7 linked regions of the Homo sapiens genome follow. The protein of the gene in region 1 interacts with the protein of each later gene in a pairwise test. Each region holds a gene or a part of one and is shown in the gene's direction. Other genes may lie near its edges.

The links.
Region 2: the proteins of EFS (region 1) and LHX8 interact in binary tests that used the Homo sapiens proteins (3 or more experiments, as listed by UniProt).
Region 3: the proteins of EFS (region 1) and NUP155 interact in binary tests that used the Homo sapiens proteins (3 or more experiments, as listed by UniProt).
Region 4: the proteins of EFS (region 1) and SH2D3C interact in a two-hybrid assay, tested with the Homo sapiens proteins (2 studies listed by BioGRID and IntAct).
Region 5: the proteins of EFS (region 1) and SH3RF2 interact in binary tests that used the Homo sapiens proteins (3 or more experiments, as listed by UniProt).
Region 6: the proteins of EFS (region 1) and GLMN interact in binary tests that used the Homo sapiens proteins (3 or more experiments, as listed by UniProt).
Region 7: the proteins of EFS (region 1) and SORBS2 interact in binary tests that used the Homo sapiens proteins (3 or more experiments, as listed by UniProt).

What each region holds. Positions count from the first base shown.
Region 1 is NC_000014.9:23,359,040-23,362,172, reverse strand, and holds part of EFS (embryonal Fyn-associated substrate), read left to right. Parts: intron 1-1,339; coding exon 1,340-1,618; intron 1,619-1,891; coding exon 1,892-2,032; intron 2,033-2,133; coding exon 2,134-2,856; intron 2,857-3,133. UniProt on the Homo sapiens protein: Docking protein which plays a central coordinating role for tyrosine-kinase-based signaling related to cell adhesion. May serve as an activator of SRC and a downstream effector. Interacts with the SH3 domain of FYN and with CRK, SRC, and YES.
Region 2 is NC_000001.11:75,158,388-75,162,033, forward strand, and holds the end of LHX8 (LIM/homeobox protein Lhx8), read left to right. Parts: intron 1-2,431; coding exon 2,432-2,508; 3' UTR 2,509-3,146; downstream 3,147-3,646. UniProt on the Homo sapiens protein: Transcription factor involved in differentiation of certain neurons and mesenchymal cells.
Region 3 is NC_000005.10:37,308,607-37,312,106, reverse strand, and holds part of NUP155 (nuclear pore complex protein Nup155), read left to right. Parts: intron 1-1,363; coding exon 1,364-1,555; intron 1,556-2,534; coding exon of another isoform or gene 2,535-2,585; exon of another isoform or gene 2,586-2,684; intron 2,685-2,839; coding exon 2,840-2,978; intron 2,979-3,500.
Region 4 is NC_000009.12:127,744,167-127,747,666, reverse strand, and holds part of SH2D3C (SH2 domain-containing protein 3C), read left to right. Parts: intron 1-395; coding exon 396-520; intron 521-2,567; coding exon 2,568-3,103; intron 3,104-3,500. UniProt on the Homo sapiens protein: Acts as an adapter protein that mediates cell signaling pathways involved in cellular functions such as cell adhesion and migration, tissue organization, and the regulation of the immune response.
Region 5 is NC_000005.10:145,999,078-146,002,577, forward strand, and holds part of SH3RF2 (E3 ubiquitin-protein ligase SH3RF2), read left to right. Parts: intron 1-980; coding exon 981-1,250; intron 1,251-3,500. UniProt on the Homo sapiens protein: Has E3 ubiquitin-protein ligase activity. Acts as an anti-apoptotic regulator of the JNK pathway by ubiquitinating and promoting the degradation of SH3RF1, a scaffold protein that is required for pro-apoptotic JNK activation.
Region 6 is NC_000001.11:92,271,488-92,274,987, reverse strand, and holds part of GLMN (glomulin), read left to right. Parts: intron 1-3,335; coding exon 3,336-3,500.
Region 7 is NC_000004.12:185,805,695-185,809,194, reverse strand, and holds part of SORBS2 (sorbin and SH3 domain-containing protein 2), read left to right. Parts: intron 1-3,500. UniProt on the Homo sapiens protein: Adapter protein that plays a role in the assembling of signaling complexes, being a link between ABL kinases and actin cytoskeleton. Can form complex with ABL1 and CBL, thus promoting ubiquitination and degradation of ABL1.

The sequences.
Region 1 (3,133 bases):
TAGCTTGATTCTACCAAATGACATCATGGAGCAAGAGCACTGCGAAGGGTTATAGCAAAGGGAAATAGGGTATAAGAAGGCTTTCCTATGCGCTTGACTTGCTTTTGAGTTAGGGACCCTCTCAGCCACTGTTACTACTCTTTCTTTTAAGTAGATTCCTACATTTGTAATTGTGGAGAAGCAGTAGCACAAGTGATTGAGAGCGCAGGCTCTGGGATCAAGCAGCTTAGGGTTCAGATTATGCTCCACAAGCTGTGCCAGCGATATGGCATCAGACAAAGTACTAACCTCCCTCTTCCAGTTTTCTTTCCAAAATGGGGTAATGACAGTCCCTCCCTCGTAAGGTTGTTGTGAGAATTAAATGAGATGAGTTGATTAATGCAAAGATTTGCACAGTGTCTGGAAACGTTGTTTGCACTTGGTACCTGTGAGTTATTACCTGAGCCTGTGGCCCTTGATGGAAAAAGCTTATAAGCCCCCACCAGACAGGACTGGAAACAGAATGATACATGTTTCCTTTTGGTTGGCCTGCCAACCCCCTTCACACACACACACAAAGACACACTCTGTCCTGCAATGGAAGGGCCCATTGCTAAATGATGATGCCTGCTGGAAGGATCCCAGGCAGTGGTGACACACACACAAGAATACACACTTTTCTCCATGGTAACCTCAGCCTCTTCTGGTAGAAACTTATTTGCTCAGACTGAGAGCAAAACAATTGCTTTGTTTCTGTTTTCTTTCTTATTATGCCTAGGCACACTGTCTGGACTAGGCCTCTCCCAGTCTCTCAGAATGAGAGGTCTCTGTGGCTGCTTAATCTAACCTTTTGCTAGTGAGGGATAATGACTTGGGAACAGAGAGAAGGTCTATGAGAGACTGTAGCAGGGCTTCACATGTTTTGGAAGACATTCATTCAACATGTGTAATGACCAATTCCAGGTCAGGCCTTATTGCAAGGACTAGAAATATAGCCGTTCCTATGTTCATAGGGTTTACAGTATAAGGGAAGAAATCGATACAAAAGAAGCAAATAGACAAATAGTATAAAGTACGAGGATGGAAACAATAGGTGGAGACAAACAGAGAATGGGGCGGGGAGAAGAGTAAAGAATCGGCCTCTCTGAGGAGAGCTGGTCTAGTTGAAGGAACTGAAAGGAAGAGGGAGAATGCAAGCGGTGAAGCTGGAGAGAAGCTAGGGCCCAGGCAGAAAGCTGCATCCAGAGTTCAGGTTTTTTAGCTTGAGGGAAATGCGGAGCTCCGAAGGGTTCTAAGCAGGGGTGACGTGACCTGAAAGGGGTCTGAAGACCCTTCTCCCCACTCCCACCTCCCCAACCAGACCCAGCTGGCCCGGGCACTGTATGACAACACCGCTGAGTCCCCCCAGGAGCTGTCCTTCCGCCGAGGGGATGTCCTACGGGTCCTGCAGAGAGAGGGCGCTGGTGGACTGGACGGCTGGTGCCTCTGCTCCCTACACGGCCAGCAGGGCATTGTGCCCGCCAACAGGGTGAAGCTCTTGCCTGCTGGCCCAGCACCCAAGCCCAGCCTCTCTCCTGCGTCCCCAGCCCAGCCTGGCTCACCATATCCAGCCCCAGATCACAGCAATGAGGACCAGGAGGTGAGAGTGGGAGCCTCCCCAACCCCAAGCCAGAAGAGCCCCATTCCTCCCCAACTAGCCCCACCCAGGGCCTGCAGCAGGTGGGCAGGAAGAGCCCTGAGGCCACAGCTCTTCACTGCTCTGCGCTGGACGAAACCTGTCTACCAACCTTTCTGAGCTGTGGCCCTCTCGATACAGGGAGAGTTAGAAGGTCTCTAAGCTCCTCGCACTCAGACATTATCTGATCACCGGCCCCTCCGTTCCTCCTGACCCCCCATCTATTTGATCCCTCAGGTGTATGTGGTGCCGCCCCCAGCTCGGCCCTGTCCAACCTCAGGACCTCCAGCTGGACCTTGCCCACCCTCTCCTGACCTCATCTACAAAATCCCCAGAGCTAGTGGGACCCAGCTGGCTGCTCCCAGAGATGCCTTGGAGGTGAGGGCTAGAGGTCCCTGTGTATGTTGGGTGGGAGACAAATGGCCCCAAGGGAGGGTTCATCGCTGAGCTGACAGATGACTGACCACTCCTTTCCGCAGGTCTACGATGTGCCCCCCACCGCCCTCCGGGTGCCCTCCAGTGGCCCCTATGACTGCCCTGCCTCCTTTTCCCACCCTCTGACCCGGGTTGCCCCGCAGCCCCCTGGAGAGGATGATGCTCCCTATGATGTGCCTCTGACCCCAAAGCCACCTGCAGAGCTGGAACCAGATCTGGAGTGGGAAGGAGGCCGGGAGCCGGGGCCCCCCATCTATGCTGCCCCCTCCAACCTGAAACGAGCGTCAGCCTTACTCAATTTGTATGAAGCACCCGAGGAACTGCTGGCAGACGGGGAGGGCGGGGGCACTGATGAGGGGATCTACGATGTGCCTCTGCTGGGGCCAGAGGCTCCCCCTTCTCCAGAGCCCCCTGGAGCCTTGGCCTCCCATGACCAGGACACCCTGGCCCAGCTTCTGGCCAGAAGCCCCCCACCCCCACACAGGCCCCGGCTCCCCTCAGCTGAGAGCCTGTCCCGCCGCCCTCTGCCTGCCCTGCCTGTCCCTGAGGCCCCCAGCCCCTCCCCAGTGCCCTCTCCTGCCCCAGGCCGGAAGGGCAGCATCCAGGACCGGCCTCTGCCCCCACCCCCACCCCGCCTGCCTGGTTATGGAGGCCCCAAGGTCGAGGGGGATCCAGAGGGCAGGGAGATGGAGGATGACCCAGCAGGACACCACAATGAGTACGAGGGCATTCCGATGGCCGAGGAGTATGACTATGTCCACCTGAAGGTGAGCGCCCCTTGGCAGCCCCACCAGGAGGGACCCCAGAGGGACCAAGGGGAGGGGTGTGGAGACCTAGGGCACAGAGGCAGAGCCTCCCTGCCTCCCTTCTGTCCCCCTTCCCTCTACCCTGCAGCCTGGGACCCCAGTACTTGGCCACAACACTTGTACCAGTGCCACACTGTTCCTCCTAGACCCAGCCTGGGGCCACCAGAGCTCTCTGGAGTCAAGGGACTACAACCTCTGATAACAGGAGTGTCCTTCGGAAGGAAGGGGGTCCGGGGAA
Region 2 (3,646 bases), on another chromosome or scaffold:
TTTTAATGTAGTTTATTTCATCATTTTTCCTTCATGAGCCATGCTTTTTTTGGTGACATGTGCAAGAAATTGTTTATACTCAAAGATAATGAAGATATATCTTCTATGATATCATCTAGAAACTTTGTTTTACCTTTGCTGTGTAGATTTACAATTCATTTGGAACTGAATTTTGTGTGTGGTGTGAGGTAGAAAGTGAAGCTTTTTTGTTATGTTGATGAAAATAGAAAATGTCCAGCTTCTCTGTAGAGACATATTTGCCATAAATCAAATGTCCGTATGTTGTGTCAATTTCTGTACCTTCTGTTCTATTTTATTGGTCTATTTATTTTTGTGTTGCTACTTAATCATTCTAATCATGGTAGGTCTATAATTTTTAATATATGATAATGTGTTTCTATTTTGTTGTTATTCAAGTTTGTATTGCCCATTCTTGGCCCTTTATGTTTTCATAAAATTTACCTACTTGTCTATTTCTACCCCAAAAGGGAAAACAATTAAGATTTTGATACAATCTATTACAGCAAATATATTGATCAGTTTTAGGAAATTGCCATCTTAACAGTATTTTCTTCCATACCATGAACTTTAGCATGTCTTTCCATTTGTTTAGATCATCTTTAAATCATCTCATGATTTAGACTTTTCTGTTTAGTAATCTTGCACATCTTCTGTTAAGTTTATCTCTAAGTATTTCTTTTGATTCAGTTGTAAGTGGTATTTTCTCTATAAGTAGAAATCTGGATTGGTAGTTATTTTCTTTCAGCACTTTGAAGATATGATTACCTTGTCTTCTGATTTTCATTGTTTGTTTTGCATATGGATAGCTAATTAACCTGGCCCCATTTATTGGTAAAGTCAGCTATTGACCTTCTTGCTCCTTCGAAAATAAACGTCTTTTTTCCTCAACTTTTTTCTTTGTGTTTGTCTTGAAAAAGTTTTACCATACTGTGCCTGGGTGTGCTTCTTGAATATGTAGTTTGATGTCTTTCATTATGGAAAATTCTCAGCTTTTGCCTCCTCAAATATTGTTTTTGCTCCTATGAAAAAATTTTCTTGTTTTCTTCTGAACTATTTTTCTAGTTCACTAATGCTCTCTATATCTAATATCCTGTAAAAAAATCATCCACCGACTTCTTAATTTATTATGTTTTTCAGTTTTAAGATTTCCATTTATATGCTGAAATCATCCATTTTGTCACTTTATCCTTATTTAAATTGTTATACTAAAGTTCAGGTGTGATAACTCCAATATCTGGATCTTTGGTGGGTCTATTCTGTTTTCTTAATTTTCCTCTTTATTTTCTTTCAAGTCATGTCTTGTTATTTGTCTTCTTATTTGCTATTGCATTTCAGATGTTGGGTATGAGTAACTAAAAATAATTTGAGGCTGTGGATGATATCTTTCACTAGAGAAGATTAGTTTTACCCCCCAGGTAGTCAGAATAGGGTGAAATCAACTTAATCCAATCAGGCACAAATCCTTAAGAGGGCTGGTATATTTTTGTTTTACTACTCCTTGGAGTTAGCCCTTTGGAATCACAAATGAATCCCTGTTTTGTTTTGTTTTCTGTTGTTGTTTTTAACTAGGGCTTCTCCTCTTCAGCGGGCCCTGCTCTTTAATTTTTGTTTCTCACCACTCTGCCAAAGTCTAACTTCTGAATGCTCTGCTAAACTTCTTGGCCTATCAGACATTTGTTTTGTTTTAAATTGTCACTATCCTTGCGGGAGGAAAAGCATCCTCATTTTCTTTCCCTCCACTCTGGGACTTTGTAAGTCCTCACTACTTAAGTGTCTTTCAGATGCCTTCAAACAGATTTTAAAAATTTTGTCCAGATTTCCTAGTTGGTCTCAGAGAAAGGTTTGGTTTGAAGCAACATAGCCCTTGCTGAAAGCAGAAACTTCATTTTAAGTTTTGGTTAGATAAAAAATCAGAGCCTGTACTGTTGTTGCCATTTACTTATACTAGCATTAAAATTGTGTGTGTTCACATGAAACACAGTAGTGTTGCCTGAGTCCAGTGTGTTTTGATGTATGCTTAGGGAGGAGGTAATTAAACATTAATGAAAGAAACTTGGGGAAGATCATCCTATACAAACACCTTCATGAGAAAGCTAGCAGCAGCATCTCTGAAGAGGAACCCATGTCTTTCTAGCTTCAGGGTGAAGTGCAGTGAATGGGGTATGGATGGAGGACATTAAAATGGCAAAATCTTGTGGCCCCAAATAAAGATTTGGGGGTAAAACTGTTCCTGGACTCTCACTATGCTGAATAGGTTAATGCTTCTGCTGAGGTCAGTGGAATGAGTGTAGCTTGGTGCCCTCAGCTATAATGAGTGATGAAAACAATGCCTTGGATTGTTTTTGTTTGTTTATAAATCAGTTTTATGCACCCTACAAAACTGATCCACAAATTTCTTTCTATTTTGTAGCTCATTCACCAACAACTCTTGGACTCCAGCCCTTGTTACCCCATTCAATGACACAACTGCCAATAAGTCATACCTAATTCTTTTTTCAGGGATAGACTTGATTAAGGATATAAATTTGTCATTTATTATGTATAAAATACCATTGAAAAGATATTACTGTTAATTTTTTATTTAACACCTAAAGCATTTCCAACATCACTTTGCTGCCCAGGTATGTATCTATAGTTGGCCTGCAAGACACTTTTATTAATTCTTCATTTTTTGTAAAACTTATGTTTACAAGAAGAAAACAAATCAAAACATTTTTTGTATTGTCTGGAAATAGTTCACTCTAGTGTGTATCTGTTAATTTATTTGTCATCAAAAGAGCACTTTGCCTAAAAGAAAGGACTGACAAGTGTGCAAAATGTTTACAATCTTTTGTGAAATTGTAGTTTATCATTAGTTTGTATCTGTAAGTTATTGTAATAAATATTACCTGTATTTTTTGTTATATACAACTTTATACTTTGAAGCTTGTATCTGTGAATTTGCAACTGAAATTTATTTTGCCAATGTTTTCTGAATGAACTGAATAAAGCTTCTGTTGTAGCATGCCATGCAAACACATTATTGTGTTTGTGGTTGATGAATTATGGCTGTAAATAACACTATAGTTTAATAAGCCCACCATTCTGAGTTTATTAAACATTTTCCATTCTTGTGAAAATTTCAACCAGTTTGTCCTTTTTGTGTGTTTTCAGCAGTAAGTTGACTTTAGTCTCTTTAAAATCTAACAACTAATAAGTTTAAAAAGTATTGTGTTTTGAGCTGCATTGTATGAACACATTTGAGTAGGAAACATATTATTCAAAAAAAAAAAACACAGTAAAACATTTAATTTGGCAAAAATTGTCTTTTAGGCCAGCTAATAAAATCAATGTGAAAGAGAAGGCAGAACACTTTTCAGAATGGACTTCGGAGGGTATTACAAGCCAGAAATGAAATATGGGCCATAATATATTTCTTCAGGAGTGAAAAAAGAGAACTAAAAGTTTCTAGAGCAAGAACTCTTTGCATTTTCTTCTTGGTGAATACCCTTTAGGGATGGTGATTCTGAGAGCTGAAATCTTAAACCTCAGGACTTTATCTTATGTGGCAGTGGACTTACAAATTTTTGAATTTAAAGAATTTAGTACTCACTTTTTGTCTTTTTATATGCCAGTTGGGGAAGAA
Region 3 (3,500 bases), on another chromosome or scaffold:
ATAATCATTGCTGGAATTTATTATTTCATTTAGGATTACAAAAGGGTAATATTTATTTATTTGTTTGTTTGTTTTTTATTTTTTTTGAGACAGTGTCTCATTCTGTCACCCAGGCTGGAGTGCTGTGGAGCAATCTGAGATCACTGTAACCTCCACCTCCCGGGTACAAGCAGTTCTCCTGCCTCAGCTTCCCGAGTAGCTGGGACTACAGGCATGTGCCACAACGCCTGGCTGATTTTTGTAGTTTTAGTAAGAGACCGGGTTTCGCCATGTTGGCCAGGCTGGTGTTGAACTCCTGACGTCAGGTGATCTACCTGCCTTGGCCTCCCAAAGTGCTGGGATTACAGGCATGAGCCACCATGCCCGGCCAAAAGGATAATATTTTAAATCTGTGATTCCTTCCCCAGTTACTAGCTGCAATTCTGTAAAAAAAAAAAAAAAAATTCTTTTTCCTTGTCCTGTATGGATATTTCATTACTCTGAAACACTTACTTTTTGACTCTCGTATACCATTTTTCAACGTTGGAAGGCAGTCTCCTCATTCTTTCCACTAGTGTCCAATGAATAGTGTGGCTTTTGTTGGTGGTTTTGTTTCTTTTAAATACATACTGTTTTTTATTTTTAAAAATTCAAGCTAATATATTTAATTATGAAACTTATCTTTTTCATACCAAGTAGAATAATAATTTTGAGTTTTATAGAGTGATAAATATATTGTAGGTAGGTTTTTATCCTGGGTATGTTTTTGTGATCCATCTTCAAAGCTCTCTTCCTTACATCACCAATGGCATGCTCAATGAATGCAAATTAAAGATTTGTTCAAGAATTTTAACACAGTTTGGGTATTTCCTTGAATTTAGAAAAAAGAGATAGCAGTCACATCACTAACAGAATCTTTTACTATAGTATAAATCAATACTTTAGAGCTTCATTTGGACAAGCAGATTTGTTCACAATACAGATTAAACTCCAATATTATTATAAGGCCTAGAATAATGGAATTCTAACAGTGTTTAGGAAGGAGTAATATGTAAGCCCAAGATTTTCAAATATAGCCAAGTGATTGTTTTTTCCATTTTATAACCAAAGCCAGGAGATCTGACTCTAGTTTTGGCTCTACTTAAGCTTTACTTTTCTCATTTGGAAAGTGAGAGTTTTGGACTAGATCTACTGTAGGTTCTTTTCCAACTCTCTATGATTTTATGTAAGTTCGCAAAAATTTGTTTCTACTAATTAGTATATTTTCGCTTTTCAATTATAGAGTCTATTAATATTTAGGTTATTTTAATTTATTAAAATAATTTCATTATGTTTAGAAATATGGTATTTCTATAATTGTGATAGAAAAGTTTTATGCTCCTAGGAACTTCAAGAGCAGCTGAAGATCACCACCTTTAAAGATCTTGTAATCAGGGACAAAGAACTCACAGGGGCATTAATTGCTTCTCTTATCAACTGCTACATCAGAGATAATGCCGCTGTTGATGGCATTAGTTTACATTTACAGGATATCTGCCCACTTCTATATAGCACTGATGATGCAATTTGTTCTAAGGTATGATACTTTATTACCTATTTCATTGTTTGTTATAAGAGGTATCATGTATGATGAACCATCTTGTTTCACTTAATATAGGACCTCAGTCAGTTAGATCTCTTAACCTCTCCTAGCCTCAGAATCCTCATCTAAGAAAGGGGTTGGAATATGTGGCTTCTTAAAACCAGTGTATACTCTTTTAAGCTTAGCTTTTCTTTTTAAAAATATTTTTATTTATTTATTTGACACAGGGTTTCACTCTGTTGCTTAGGCTGTAGTGCAGTGCTGTGATCATAGCTCACAGCAGCTTCTAAGTCCTAGACTCAAGCAGGCCTCTCATGTAGCTAGGGGCTACGGGTGTGCACCACTACACCCAGCCAATTTTTTTGTTTTTTATAGAGACAAGTTCTGATTTGTTGCACAGGCTGGTCTTGAACTCTTGGCTTCAAGTGATCCTCCTGCCTCAGCCTCCCATAGTGCTGGGATTATAAGTGTGAGCCACCATGCCCAGCCCTCCTTTAAGTTTTTCATAAAGAATATTCTCTCTTTTTTTTTAAGACTGAGTACGATCTCAGCTCACTGCAACCTCCACCTCCCAGGTTCAAGTGATTCTCCTGCCTCGGCCTCCCAAATAGCTGGGATTACAGGTGTGCACCATCACACCTGGCTAATTTTTTATATTTTTGGTAGAGACAGGATTTCACCATGTTGTCTAGGCTGGTTTTGAACTCCTGACCTCCGCCTGCCTCAGCCTTGCAAAGTGTTGGGATTATAGACATGAGCCTCTGCGCCTGGCCCATAAAGAATCTTTGATAGTGTTTCTAGGCCATATTAAAAAACCAAAGGTGAGAAATTAAGAAAAATCACTAAATTTAGAAATTAAGGAAATTTAGGGGATAATTTATCTCCTTAGCTTAAGGAAAAGTACTAAAACTTCAAGTAAATCTTTTAGTGAATTAGAGTTAATGGGGGCATTTTTATTGATCCTTTCCTACAGGTGGAAAAAATAAATAAATCAGTGTCACATGGACTGCCTGCTGCCCAATAATGTATTGACTAGGCAAGAGAATTACCAGACAAAAGTTCTCTTGCTTAACATATTTGGGAGAGGAATTAAGAATAGCTAGGAATCTTTGGTCAAAAACTTTTCTGCCTAAAATTAAGAAGTAAGTTTGTAGAGTTGTTTTCATTTTAATGGTAATAACCATATATAAATTTAGACATAGACTAAAACTTAGTTGACAGCATCATCTGTCTGCTTGATTTTATATATTTTTAAGTTCTTGTTATCTCCTCTTCTAGGCAAATGAGCTTCTCCAGCGTTCCCGACAAGTTCAAAATAAGACTGAAAAAGAAAGAATGTTAAGGGAATCATTAAAGGAATATCAAAAAATTAGCAATCAAGTGGACCTTTCCAATGTTTGTGCTCAGTATAGACAAGGTGAGAAATAAAATGTTTCTTGTATCTTTTACTCAACTCAAAAGACAAACAATAGTGTATGAATGAAGCAAGCTAATGATGAAAAGCCACTTTCCAGATGCAAATCTTCTTTCAGCATCAGAGGCCGAGTGAAAGGACGTAGGAATGTGGTATCATTGTGTTGCAATATTTGATGACTACACTGACCTGCAGAAGCTGTAATGTTCTTTCTATTTTTTGAAATGTACTTTTTTTTTTTTTTTTTTTTTTTTTTGAGAGTCTCGCTCTGTCAGCCAGGCTGGAGTGCAGTGGCACGATCTCAGCTCACTGCATCCTCTGCCTCCCAGGTTCCAGCAATTCTCCTGCCTCAGCCTCCCGGGTAGCTGGTATTACAGGCGCACGCCACCACGCCCAGCTAATTTTTTATTTTTTTATTTTTTTATTTTTTTTATTTTGAGACAGAGTCTTGCTCTGTCACCCAGGCTGAAGTGCAGTGGTGCGATCTCAGCTCACTGCAAGCTCTGCCTCCCAGGTTCACGCCAT
Region 4 (3,500 bases), on another chromosome or scaffold:
CTCGGAGGCTGAAGCAGGAGAATGTCTTGAACTCGGGAGGCAGGTTCAGCAGTTGCAGTGAGCTGAAATCACGCCACTGCACTGCAGTCTGGGCGACAGAGTGAGACTCCATCTCCGAAAAAAAAAACAAAAAAGAAAAGAAAAAAGACAAAAAAAGAAAAAAAGAAACCAGGCGTTCTAGCCACCAGGGTTCCTAGCTCTGCTCCTGACTCGCTGTGCCCCCTCCCTCATCTGGGCTTCAGTTTTTTTGGTACCTGTCAGTCGGGAGGTTGGATTTGATAATCTCCAAGCCTTCTCTGCCTCTGAAGTTCAAGGTGCAGAGGTGGGGGGTCCCAGAGGCAGGCTGAGGCCCCTGACCTCCGGGCTCCCTGCCCATGATGGTGTCTGCTCCACAGTACGTCGCTGCCCCGCCCTCGGGACTCCATCCGCAGCTGTGCCCTCAGCATGGACCAGATCCCAGACCTGCACTCACCCATGTCGCCCATCTCCGAGAGCCCTAGCTCCCCTGCCTACAGCACTGGTATGGCCAGCAGAGGGGGTGGAGCAGGTGGAGGGAATCTGTTGTTGAAGACTTCTGTCACCTATGTGTGGTTATGTGTGTTTCCGCCTCTTTTATGAGGCGCGACCTTTACCAAGAGAAAGAACTGACACTGGAATCCTGCTAACAGAACTGTTGATATCAACATATAAGATGTATCCATGGTTTGTTTATTTAGCAACTATTTATTTGTTTTTGTGACAGTTTTGCTCTTGTGGGCTGGAGTGCAGTGGTGGGATCTTGGCTCACTGCAACCTCCGCCTCCTGGGTTCAAGCGATTCTCTTGCTTCAGCCTCCCAAGTAGCTGGGATTACAGACCCCTGCCACCACGCCTGGCTAATTTTTGTATTTTTAGTAGAGACGGTGTTTCGTCATGTTGGCCAGAGTGGTCTCGAACTCCTGACCTCAGGTGATCCACCTGCCTTGGCCTCCCACAGTGCTGGGATTACAGGCGTGTGCCACCATGCCTAGCTAATTTTTGTATTTTTAGTAGAGATGGGGTTTCACCATGTTGGCCAGGGTGGTCTCGAACTCCTGACCTCAGGTGATCCACCCGCCTCAGCCTCCCAAAGTGCTGGGATTACAGGCATGAGCCACTGCACCTGGCCTCTATTTTTCTTAATAGACTTTATTTTTTAGAGCAGTTTTAGGTTTGCAGCAAAATTAAGTGGAAAGTACGGAACACTGTGCTTTCTTATAAATACGAAGAAAGTTTCTCTGTTAGAAACATTCCAATAGATCATTTCTGGAAAAAAAATAAAAAGAATGTTTTCAACAGGCCGTATTGTCCACGTGGCAGGCCAAGTGTCACGAGAGGGGGCTGACTCAGGAGGAACTTTCGCCTAGGGTGGCATTCCATTGAAGTGTTGCTGTCTGTATCGGTTGTCACAAATCCTTCCCTAAACACAGAGCCACCAACTTTGTCATAACTACAAACTTGATTTCAAAGCAATACCCTGAGTATAAAACCTAAAATTCCTTGCCAGAATGACTTATTGGACAGTTTCTAAGCAATCTGGTATAGTAAAGCAGCCCAGATGTCAAGACTTAAATCTCAGCTGTACCACTTGCTGGCTGGGTGACCTTGGGCAGGTTAGTGCACCTCTCTGAGCTTCACTTTTCTCATCTGTAGAATGAGGATTATAAAAGTACTTACTTCATAGGACATTGAAAGGATTAAATAGACTGAGGTACAAAGAAGGGTCTTGCAGGCACTAAGAGCTTAGTAAATATCGCCTTTGAGGTTTGATGATGGTTTTACTGTCATTATGTCTCCAGCATGTTGCCAGCTCCTAGCACACAAGGTTTAGCAACAAATCATTATTGCTAATTCAGGCCGGGCATGGTGGGGCACATCTGTAATCCCAGCTACTCAGGAGGCTGAGGCACAAGAATTGCTTGAACCTGGGAGGCGGGGGTTGCAGTGAGCTGAGATCATGCCATTGCACTCCAGCCTAGGCAACAGAGCGAGACTCTGACTCAAAAAAAAGTTAGCCAGGCGTTGTGGCACATGACTGTAATCCCAGCTACTCGGGAGGCTGAGGCTCAAGAATTGAAGAATTGCTTGAACCCAGGAGGTGGAGGTTGCAGTGAGCCTAGATGGCACCACTGCACTCCAGCCTGGGCCACAGAGCGAGACAGTGACTCAAAAAAAAAAAAAAAAAAAAAAAAAAGGAAATCATTATTGCTAATTCGTCGAGAAACAATCACATGTGGCACAAGAAACTCCAGCAGGTACTCAGCTTCCCCGGATCACTGAAGCTCCTCCAAGCAGTGGGTCCCCAAGGCTGCAGCAGCCTCAGGGTGGGGCCATGCAAACTCCTGGGTCCTGGTGATTTCAGAGCATCACCTGGGCTGGTCAGCTTGCCAGAGTCAATCGGCCCTGGTCTCTGGTGATGCAGGGAGGTGGGGACATCACCTCTGTACTCCCTACAAGGAGTGAGGGAGCCTGTTCTTTGGGAAGGGGTGCGGGAATCTCACTTTGGTGGGGAGCTGCTATAACGGGGCCTCTCTCTCTACCTTTCTGCAGTAACCCGTGTCCATGCCGCCCCTGCAGCCCCTTCTGCCACAGCATTGCCTGCCTCCCCTGTCGCCCGCCGTTCCAGTGAGCCCCAGCTGTGTCCCGGAAGTGCCCCAAAGACCCATGGGGAGTCAGACAAGGGCCCCCACACCAGCCCCTCCCACACCCTTGGCAAGGCCTCCCCGTCACCATCACTCAGCAGCTACAGTGACCCGGACTCTGGCCACTACTGCCAGCTCCAGCCTCCCGTGCGTGGCAGCCGAGAGTGGGCAGCGACTGAGACCTCCAGCCAGCAGGCCAGGAGCTATGGGGAGAGGCTAAAGGAACTGTCAGAAAATGGGGCCCCTGAAGGGGACTGGGGCAAGACCTTCACAGTCCCCATCGTGGAAGTCACTTCTTCCTTCAACCCGGCCACCTTCCAGTCACTACTGATCCCCAGGGATAACCGGCCACTGGAGGTGGGCCTTCTGCGCAAGGTCAAGGAGCTGCTGGCAGAAGTGGATGCCCGGACGCTGGCCCGGCATGTCACCAAGGTGGACTGCCTGGTAGGTGCTGGCTGTGCACTGGGGTGGAGGGAGCATCTCTGTTCTGTGGGGCAGGGCAGTGAGAAGCTGGCTCCCAGATTCCCCAAGTACAGCAGGTGGGCCTGGATTCTAGCTCCATGGCTGTCCTTTGCCTGCTCTGTGACTCTGGGCTGGTCATTTAGCCTCACTGGGCCTCCAGTTTCTCCTTTTAAAAAGGCCGGGGGTGGTAGCTCACACCTGAATCCCAGCACTTTGGGAGGCCGAGGCGGGCGGATCACCTGAGGTCAGGAGTTCAAGACCAGCCTGGGCAACATGGCGAAACCCCGTCTCTACTAAAAATACAAAAATTAGCTAGGCGTCGTGGTGGGCGCCTGTAATCCCAGCTACTTGGAAGGCTGAGGCAGGAGAATCACTTGAA
Region 5 (3,500 bases), on another chromosome or scaffold:
GCTGGTGGTGGGTCTTGCCTCAATATTGATGGCTTGTTGCTTCACCTTGCATTTTTATGTTATAGAGACAGCTTCTCTTCTTAAACCTCAGACTATCTCTGCCAGCTTCAAACTTTTTTTCTGCAGCTTCCTCATCTCTCTCAGCCTTCATAGAATTAAAGAAAGTTAGGATCTTGATCTTGATTAGGCTTTGGCTTGAGGGTCTGTTGTGTCTGGTTTGATCTTCTACACAAACCAGTCAAACTTTCTCCATATCGGCAATAAGGCTGATTCACTTACTTATCATTTATGTATTCACTGCAGTAGCACTTCTGATTTCCTTCATGAACTTTTCTTTTGCATTCACAGCTTGACTGTTTGTCACAAGAGGCCTAGCTTTTGGCCTATCTCAGCTTTAGTCATGCCTTCCTCATTAAGATTAATCATTTCTAGCTTTTGATTTAAAGTGAGAGATGTGAAACTCTTCCTTTCACTTGAAAATTTGTAGGCAATTGTAGGGTCATTAATTGGCCTCATTTTAATATTTTTGTGTCTCAGAGAATAGGGAGGCCCAAGGAGAGGGAGAGAGATGGGAAAATGACCAGTTTGTGGAGCAGTCAGAACACAAACATTTATCGACGAAGTTTGCTGTCTTGTATGGGCAAAGTTTGTGGCGCCCCCCGAGACATTACAATAGTAACCTCAAAGATCACTGATTACAGATCACCATAGCAGATATAATAATAATGAAAGTTTAAAATATTTAAAGTTAATAACAGTTACCAGAATGTGACACAGAGACACAAAGTGAGCACATGGTGTTGGAAGAATGGCGCTGATAGACCTATTTAACACAGGTTGCCATAAACCTTTGATTTGTAAAAAACTCAGTATTTGCAAAGCATGTTAAAGCAAAGTACAATAAAAGGGGGAATGCTTGTATCTTCTGTTCCTCTAGACTCTAAGCTAAGTACATATCTTATTGGTCTGTGCCATTGCAGGTGCCTCGAGCAAAGGCCTTATGCAACTACAGAGGGCAGAATCCCGGTGACCTAAGGTTTAATAAGGGAGATATCATCCTTCTCCGGAGACAGCTTGATGAGAATTGGTACCAGGGGGAAATCAATGGCATCAGCGGGAACTTCCCAGCCAGCTCCGTGGAAGTCATCAAGCAGCTGCCCCAGCCGCCCCCGCTCTGCAGGGCCCTCTACAACTTCGACCTACGAGGCAAGGACAAGAGTGAGAACCAGGATTGCCTGACCTTCCTCAAGGTAGGATTCTGGGTGGCCACCAGAGTCACCTGGGACCACGTAGAGACCATAGCAGAACAGAGTTCCTTGTTTAATATTTGCTGATTTTAAAAAATTGTATTTTAAATATATTATATTATTGTTAATATTTTATTCATAAAAATATATTTTGTGCATAAATTACGTATGTATATATGTAGTGCATATATATGTAATATGTGTGTACAATTCAAACTACATGCACGTGAAATCTCTAGAGAAATCTACGAATAAGTGATAGAAGTCTGTAAGCCTTTTTTATTGTAATTACAAAAGTATTCACTCATTCATTCATTCATTTATCCTGAAACCATTGTAGAAACATTTGAAAATACAGATAAGCAAAACAAGGAAAATATTACACCACAATATAGATACAATCACTGTCAACAGCTTGAATAACACATTTGATTTATTCATTCTATCACTTTTGAGCATTTACTCCTTGAAGGCCCTGGGAATAGGACGTGAATAAGTCACAGTCTCTGCTCTCCTGGCAGAGTAATGGGAAGCACCGATACATGGACAGAAAATTAGAAACAATTTGATAACATGCTATGTAAAACTACAGCCTCTACCTCTTTATCATGTATGTGGCAGGGTATTCTTGCAACCAAGTTATGGTTACCTAATTCTACTCATTTACATTCTATCTTGTTGTAAACATCTCATTCAAAACACTCCAGACACACACAATAACATAATCGTGCCTTTCTACATAAATAACCTCTTACAAGATATATTTTTCAAACATTAATTACCCTAAGATTTCTTGTGCCTCTCTTTTTCATTAGATGATTCCCCACCATTTGCAATTAATGACAGTTGTACTAAAGTCTACACTACTTTAACTATCTGTATTCAGTATTTGTTATTCCATAAACATTCACATCTCTCATAGAAACCACAGTTGGAGTTATTTTCATTCTTGACTACTCGTGATAAGTAGATCAAATGTAAGTATAAAAAGTGGCACTGCTACAATAGCTTAGGCAAGGTGTTTCGTTTTACAAAATGTTTTTATTCCACCACTACCAGAAAGGAGATTTACTTCAGGTTTTCTCAAACTAGACAACCTCTCTGCCCTCCATATTTTGAGATAATGATCTTTATTATTGCCGTGGAACCTCAGAGCGAGACTCCTAAGGAAGGTCATTCTACAGCCCAAACAGCAAAGTGTAGACCTAGACTACAGCTAGAGGAAAGTCAGTTCAATTCCACAAATATTTATTATTTACTTTGTGCCAGGCATTAGACACACAGCTGGAGGAAGACATAAGGAAGTATCATCGTCTGCCTCTCTCACCCTTTCTGGGAATTTGTAAACTGGGGCACTTACTTCACACACTCATTCATTTCTTGAGCCCATCCATGTGCCAAGCTGGCCATTGGAGATAAAGTGATGAGTCATTGTTCTTACCTACACTGAGCTGGCAATCTAGTGGAAGAAACAGACATATAAATGGGAAATTATGACAAAGAAACCAAAAGAGAGGATTTGACCCATTCTGGAAGGCTGTGAAATACACAGACTTCTAGGAAATCTCATGGTCTAAACTCAGCATATCCAAATTAAACTCAAGATCTTCCTTCCCAAAGCTGTTCTTTTCCTAGTGCTTTCTAGCTCAGTAAATTGTGTAATTTATTCAACGTCATGTATTTATTCATGCATGCATGCATTCAATAAACTTATTGGCTGACTACTAAAAGGGAGCCACTGTGTTAGGTGCTAGGGAAAACAAAGATTAACAAAACAGACATAGGCCCTGCACACATGAAGTTTATAGTCAGATAGGGTAGACCGACATTAAAGAAATAATAACCTCCTGGCACGGTGGCTCACGCCTGCAATCCCAGCACTTTGGGAGACCGCGGCAGGCGGATCACTTGAGGTCAGGAGTTTGAGACCAGCCTGGCCAACATAGCGAAACCCCGACTCTACTAAAAATACAAAAATTAGTCAGGCGTGGTTGCGCGTGCCTGTAATCCCAGCTACTCAGGAGACTGAGGCAGGAGAATCGCTTGAACCCAGGAGGCGGAGGTTGCAGTGAGCCAAGTTCGCGCCATTGCACTCCAGCCTGGGCAACAGAGCGAGACTCCATCTAAAAATTAAAAAAGAAAGAAAAGGAAGGAAGGAAGGAAGGAAGGAAGGAAGGAAGGAAGGAAGGAAGGAAGGAAGGAAGGAAGGAAGGATAACCTATAAATGCATAATTGCACATGTGTAAGAGCAGG
Region 6 (3,500 bases), on another chromosome or scaffold:
TTTTACTGGGTAGATACTGCTGAAGGAAATACAGGGTGCAGATAGTTCAGCTGGTCAATAATCCATGATTCAGGTTGGATAGGGAAAGAAGGGGGGTTAGGAGGGAATGCCTAGGTAGGTCAAAATGTAGGAATCACAGGACTGGAGAAGTCAGAAGTAGAAAAGCAGATTGCTAGGAGAGACAGGATGACAGATTTTGGTCAGAAAATGGGATATTGGAGTTTAAAGTATCAAATACAGAATAGTTCCAGATGTTCAGAGATCCAGCATGGGATTAGGTACTGAAATGGATTAGAACTAAAAGTCACTAGAATTTAGAAATTGAGAACCATGAGAGTGGATGCAATGACTTGTTGCTTGATTGAAAAATAAATTAATAATAATAAAGGACCATGAGACTAGCCTGTTATAGGGGTTATCTCCATGAACATTGAATTTTCCCAGGATCATAGCAGGAATTGGGTAGAGAAAAAGATTATGAGAAGGTGCCAGAGTCTTCAGTGAATGTCAGGAAATTACCAGGAAGTCAGCATATGACAGAGAAAAGGACAGTATGTTATCTGCATCAAAGGAAAATGTGCTTTTGTTGAAAAGTACAGAAAAAGCCAATACTACAATACTGTGCTAAGCCCCTACCTGTACTCCTCTACCCAACAGCTGCATTCCAGGCCCTGTGGTATAAAAGGTGTGAGAATGAGCATCTCCCACCAGAAATCAGACAGGTTTAGTTAAAGCAGTGAGGCAGAACAAGCATCCTATGAAGAGACTGAGGATGTAGGTGAGTGGTTCTAAAATCTCAGTAGAAGGAACATTGCAAGTAGAAAGAGCCAGCAGTAAGGATGCACGTAGCAGTCTAGAAGTAGAGGTGAGACCAGCTTGGAGATGAAATGAGGAGATGTCTTCTGTTCTGTGCTGGAGAAGTACTGGTAAGTGTGGTGTGGTTGGGATTCACAGGCCTCAGCCATCCTCACTTTGGTACAAGTTATTTTGGTACAGAACTACTAGAATGTCCCAAAGGCTGTAGTACAGGAACATTTCTGAAAGGACAAAAGCTGCCATGAATATTGAGAAATTGTATGGTGCCAGGTACAGCCTGGATCTGAGCAAGACTGCTGGATGGTGTGTGGATAGATAGTGAAGGCCCAGATTTGGGAACAGATTGGATCTCAGATATCCAGAGCAGCACTGTAGAATCTAGTTGCATATAATAATGTTTTAAAAAGGGTATCTTAGGCTGGGCACGGTAGCTCCCGCTTGTAGGCCCAGGCCTTTGGGAGGCCAAGGTGGGCAGATCACTTAAGCCCAGGAGTTCAAGACCAGCCTGGGCTGCATGGCGAAACCCCATCTCTATAAAAAATAAAAAAAATAAAAAAAAAATAGCGGGCATGGTGGCATGTACCAGTAGTCCTAGCTACTCAGGAGACTGAGGAGGGTGGATTGCTTGAGCCTGGGGAAGTCAAGGCTGCAGTAAGCCATGATCATGCCACTACACTCCAGCCTGAGTGACAGAGTGAGACCTTGTCGCCAAAAAAAAAAAAAAAAAAAACAGGGCTACCTTACTCTGGAAAAAACACATGTAGCATTGGCTGAATAAAGAAATGGAGCTTCATGATTAAGGACATTTGGAATCAGAGTGCAATAAACTTTTTGTCTTGTAGCTATAACCAGAATGCATGGCTTTGAAAATCACTGCAGCAGTATATATTTAGCATCTGGTCGCTGAATAGCAGTCTCTTGTGACTGAGGATGATTTTCCATGGTTCCTTTTTGTATTCTGAAATGACTAATGGAACCATCTGGGATCAGCAGATTTTAAGTCCCTGAAGGCTGGAAAAGACTTATACTTGGCTTTATAATTCCCCACAAAGTCAGGCCCAGCACCTTGCACTTAAGTGTTTATTGAATAAAAGAGTGACTTGTGTGGAAGTTATTCATTCTGCTTTAGCTGTTTTTGTCATTCATTCCCTTTTAACTCTTGTAGTTTGTTGTGACTTTAACTTTCTTACGCTTTTTTTGTGGAGCTGCTCGATAAATATTTGACATAGGTATTATGTCATTTTATGGCTCATCCAGTGTCACACAAGTAGTAAATGGTAGAGCCAAAACTCAAAATCAATGTCAGTGGATTCTGAAGGTAGGTGCTTTCTGGTACGCTAGAATTAGTACCAGTATAAGAGGCATAGGAGTGATCTTGTTTCCTGAGCGGAAAGCTTTATTTAGCCCTGTGGTCCTACCCACTCATGCAAGGATGCTTCTCTTTCTCGTCTCACATGAGAACCCTGATGACTGAGAGATCAACAGTGTTTCCTCAGGCCCAGCTGCCCTGCCCAGCGTTCCTGCATCCCACTCTCTACAGGCACAATGTTAGTGGAGCATTGTTCCTAGAGTATTCTTCATCTTAGTTGCTTTACCCTTGCTTCATATATTTGTATGTCTCACGTTTCAGATTGCTCTCAAATATCCCTGAAGCACTTTTTTAAAAAAAATTGTGGTGAAATATACATAAAATTCATCATTTTAAACTTTTTAAACTATGATTCTGAATTAATTTAGAATACTTCTGATGTATAAAATGCTATGTAAAATACGATTTTGCTGTTGGCTTCTGTATTAGTTTTTCATTGCTGTATAACAAATTCCTGCAAACTTAGCAGTTTAAAACAGCATACCTTTGTTATCTCACAGTTTCTATGGATCAGGAGTCCAGCCACAGCTTAATTGGGTCCTCTGCTCAGGGTCTCATTGGGCTACAGGCCAGTTGTTGACTGGGTCTGTAGTCTTATCAGAAGCTTAACTGGGGAAAGATCCACTTTCAGGTTTCCTCCGCTGGCAGAATTCATTTCCTCTAAGCTGTAGGACTGAGGTCCCCATTTTCTTGCTGGCTGTCAGCCAGGGACCACATTTAGCTTCTAGGAGCTGCCTGTAGTTGGTCCCTTGCCATGTAGTTCTGTCCATGAGCCTTCTCATAACATGGCAGCTTAGTTCTTTAAAGCCAGCAAGGGAGAGAGTCAGAGAGCAAAGTTTCTGACTCTCAGGGAAGGCCTGGACCCCCTTTAAAAATATACCTGATTAAGTTAGGGCCACCCAACTCAAAATCTACTGATTTGGGACCTTAATTACATCTGCAAAAACCCCTTCACTTTTGTCATATAATCTAATCATGGGAGTGACATCTTGGCGCATTCTGTTGGTTGAAAGCAAGTCTCATAGGTCCCACTCACGCTCAAAGGGAGTGATTACACCTCCCCTTGGTGAGAATGTGGAGTTTGAATACACGGGGTGGGGGGCATTTTAGAGTCTGTGTGCTATGGTTTCCTTTTTTATCCATTTCATAGGGTTTTTTATCAGCAATTGGACACCCTTTCCCCAAAATGATTTTTAATCATGGAAGGAAAAAGAGAACTTGGAATTACCTTGAATTTGAAGAAGAAGAAAATAAACAGTTAGCAGACTCAATGGCTTCTCTGGCATATCTAGTATTTGTACAGGGCATCCATATT
Region 7 (3,500 bases), on another chromosome or scaffold:
CTGGTAACCTCAGACTTCAATATTTTCCTATTAGTTACTGTAAATATAGACTTGACCTAGAAATAGAAGTCCTAATACTGCCTTTTATCAAGGAAACTTAAAACATTTGAAAAACAACAATGAGGCTTTCATTTTTCTGATTTGAAAATATGGCTTCAGGATCCCAATTTCATAAAAGCTACAACTGTCCTATAATAAATCCAAATTTCCCGAGGGAAAATTTTACAATGTATGTTTTAAACAAAACAACTTGAATGTTTTAGTATATAAATAATACTATTTTTCTATCCATGGCTATTATAAAATGTATAGAAAATATCCCTATTACAAATTTGTTATGGAATCAGACTGTTTAAAACTAATGTTGAGTTGATGATGATTAGTAGCCGATTATAATGTAAGACACTTATGAAGTTGTTTTTCTTGCTGAAACCAGAAGAAAGTAAAGGTCGTGAACTGGAAAGAGATTAAATAATTGAAATGAAGTCTACAATGGCAGCATTTCTTTTAATGTTCCTAAGTAAACCTAAAAGGTGACTGGAAATCACTAGTTACGTTACACTAGTTATGTTACCCTACAACTTGAGTACCTGGGTAAGGGAGAGAATATTCTCTTAGAATCACTCTTGATATAGATATAGGTTTGTTTACAGAGACTTCCTACCCTCTGTTCTATATTAGATAACATTATTAGTATTTTTTAAATAAGCCTGATTTCAGTAGCCTTTTTATGAAAAAACTGCCACAATCAAAAATAAGAATGTACCCATAGTTTTATTAAGAAGTTATAAATACATAATTCCTTGTCTTTAAGATATCTGTGTTGAAAGCAAAAGTTCTAATTAATACTGTATGAATTTTTGTATATAAAGTAGAATTGATGAGGAAGTTTAAAATATCCTGATATTTGGGATTAGAAAGTAAAATATTTAGGAAATTATTTAAATTCATATTTCTTGACATTATTGCATTCATTCCAGCATTGAGTTTTCTAATAAAAGTAAGATAAATAGCAATTCTTAATTATCATGCTGTCCTTTAAAGCTTATTTTGGCTATCTTCCAGCTGATTTTAATGTACAGCATGCTATAATTAAATAATAGCTAAAGTTGGAATTGGTTCTATTCATCTTAAAGACTAATCATGTTTAATTATTTTAAATTGCATATAGTAATTAGATTTCAGAAACCATGATTTTGTAATATGCCTGTACTGTTTCTAACATTTTCTATTTTAAGTCATTTATAATATTTTTAAAGGTCTCAGTTATGTCTAACTACATGGATAGCATAATGAAATGAGTTGCACTTGTATTTTATAAAGAAGACTTGTGATATATGATTGCATTAGATAATTTTCTGGAAGTTCCTCAAACTAACAATTTAATTATGGATATGCCTGTTAAATCCTAAACTGCCACTGTCACGTGGAAAAATACAGATAAATATGTTTTCAAAATATGTTTTTCTGTATTATTTCTGAAAAACTCAAGACATGGACATGCAGTTAAAAGGAAACACTTCTGCAACTGTTGAGTTCTGAGTATTGGCAAATAAGAACTCACGTTTCAGCTTAAGTTCAATTAAGATGATATTTGCTGAATAAATGACGGGGAACCAGCAAAGACGGGTTTTTACTTTGGTGTTTGCAGCATAACAGATCCATATGGAACTCCACCACACTTCACTGCACCTTGGTCTTCAAAACGGAAATATACTAGTTTACCAAGTAGGAATTTTGGCCAAAAAAGCAGTGGTTTCCTCTTCCCTATACAGGTGAGGTAGACATAAATTCAGCATTAAATTCTGTACCTTAGAGAAGCATTATTTGAGCAAAAATTCAGAAAGCTTTCACTTTCCTGAATCCAATCAAGGGTCTTACTTTCAAAGATTTTCCCACCTCAAAAAAACAAAAACACAATAAAAAAGAAAGAAAACAAAAAGGCCTGGTAATGTTCTCATTATATTTTCTAATTTCTCTTTATATATTCATATTATAATTTAGGGAAACTTATTTTTAACAAAGAACATTATCTGAAAGTTTCGGTGATATTTTGTTTTTTTCTGTTCATTTATACGGTTGCCTACTTATTAAATTTTTGATTTTTTAAATTTAATCAGAAATTCAGTTTTTCTCTCTTCCCTCTGAGATGTTTTCCCAGTGGTTAAAGTAAATTACAAGTCTTATAATGAATTATATCCTCTGCTTTGAATGGGAGAGTTCATCCAATCCATTGTTAGAAATAGTTCTTCTTTTCAGGTTCCTTGTCCTAGTACATTTTTTCTGGAATAGTTGAATTTGAGGACAGGGGCAACATAAACCCGTCAGGCTCCAAATCTTCTGATGTTCTATTCAATTCAGCATCCCTCAGAGACTAATATAGCTGCAAGGATTAGCCGCAAGGAGTCCAACAAACTATAGCAAAAACAGGATTCTAGGCCGGGCGCGGTGGCTCACGCCTGTAATCCCAGCACTTTGGGAGGCCGAGGCGGGCGGATCACGAGGTCAGGAGATCGAGACCATCCCGGCTAAAACGGTGAAACCCCGTCTCTACTAAAAAATACAAAAAATTAGCCGGGCGTAGTGGCGGGCGCCTGTAGTCCCAGCTACTCGGGAGGCTGAGGCAGGAGAATGGCGTGAACCCGGGAGGAGGAGCTTGCAGTGAGCCGAGATCCCGCCACTGCACTCCAGCCTGGGCGACAGAGCGAGACTCCGTCTCAAAAAAAAAAAAAAAAAAAAAAAAAAAAAAAAAAAAAAATAGGATTCTAGCCAAGAGCTGTGCCACTCGTGAAGATCCTCTAAGAGTACAAGCATGGGATGCCATGAAGAATGGCAAGTGTTTTAAATGCACAGAAAGAAAAACATATTCAAATGAGATTTTGGCTATGTTGGAGAAAATTTATTAGTATAAATATTCATTCTAGTCTCCTCTAAACAGAAGTCCCTGTACTTACTTCTCGCTGAGGACAGCCAGCTTCTCAGAGGCACTGAGTCCTCTGAAGAGGTAACACCACAGAGGCAGCAGCCTGGCTGGTGGAAATGTGCTTCATTAAGCCTTCGGCTGCATGGAGAATCCTCTTCCACCTATTGAGAGGAGTCAGCGACTTCTGCCTCACTGGGTCTTTTTAATACCAGATATTTATACTTCATACAGGTTGCCTACACTTTATGCTACTAAACAACAAAAGTTTAAGAGAGCAACGCTTGGCTGCTTAAAAATGAGCCTTTTTGGTAGATTATCAAGATGCCTTCACACCCAATTATTTCAGTTCTCTGTGCTAAAGTTAACGAGGGAAAGGAGATTAGATAACAATAACCTCAGCTGTTGTTGTGCTATAACTGTGTCATCTGGTGAAGGGTTTGAGCACTTTCCAAAACGCGTGCATTTAACCCGTCAGACGTATTCTTGCACTATAGTAAATACTACATATTTTAGTTTGCTCAATATCTCAAAATCTAGGTTTCAAAATTTTTATAGCATAGTATTACTAGTAGTTAAG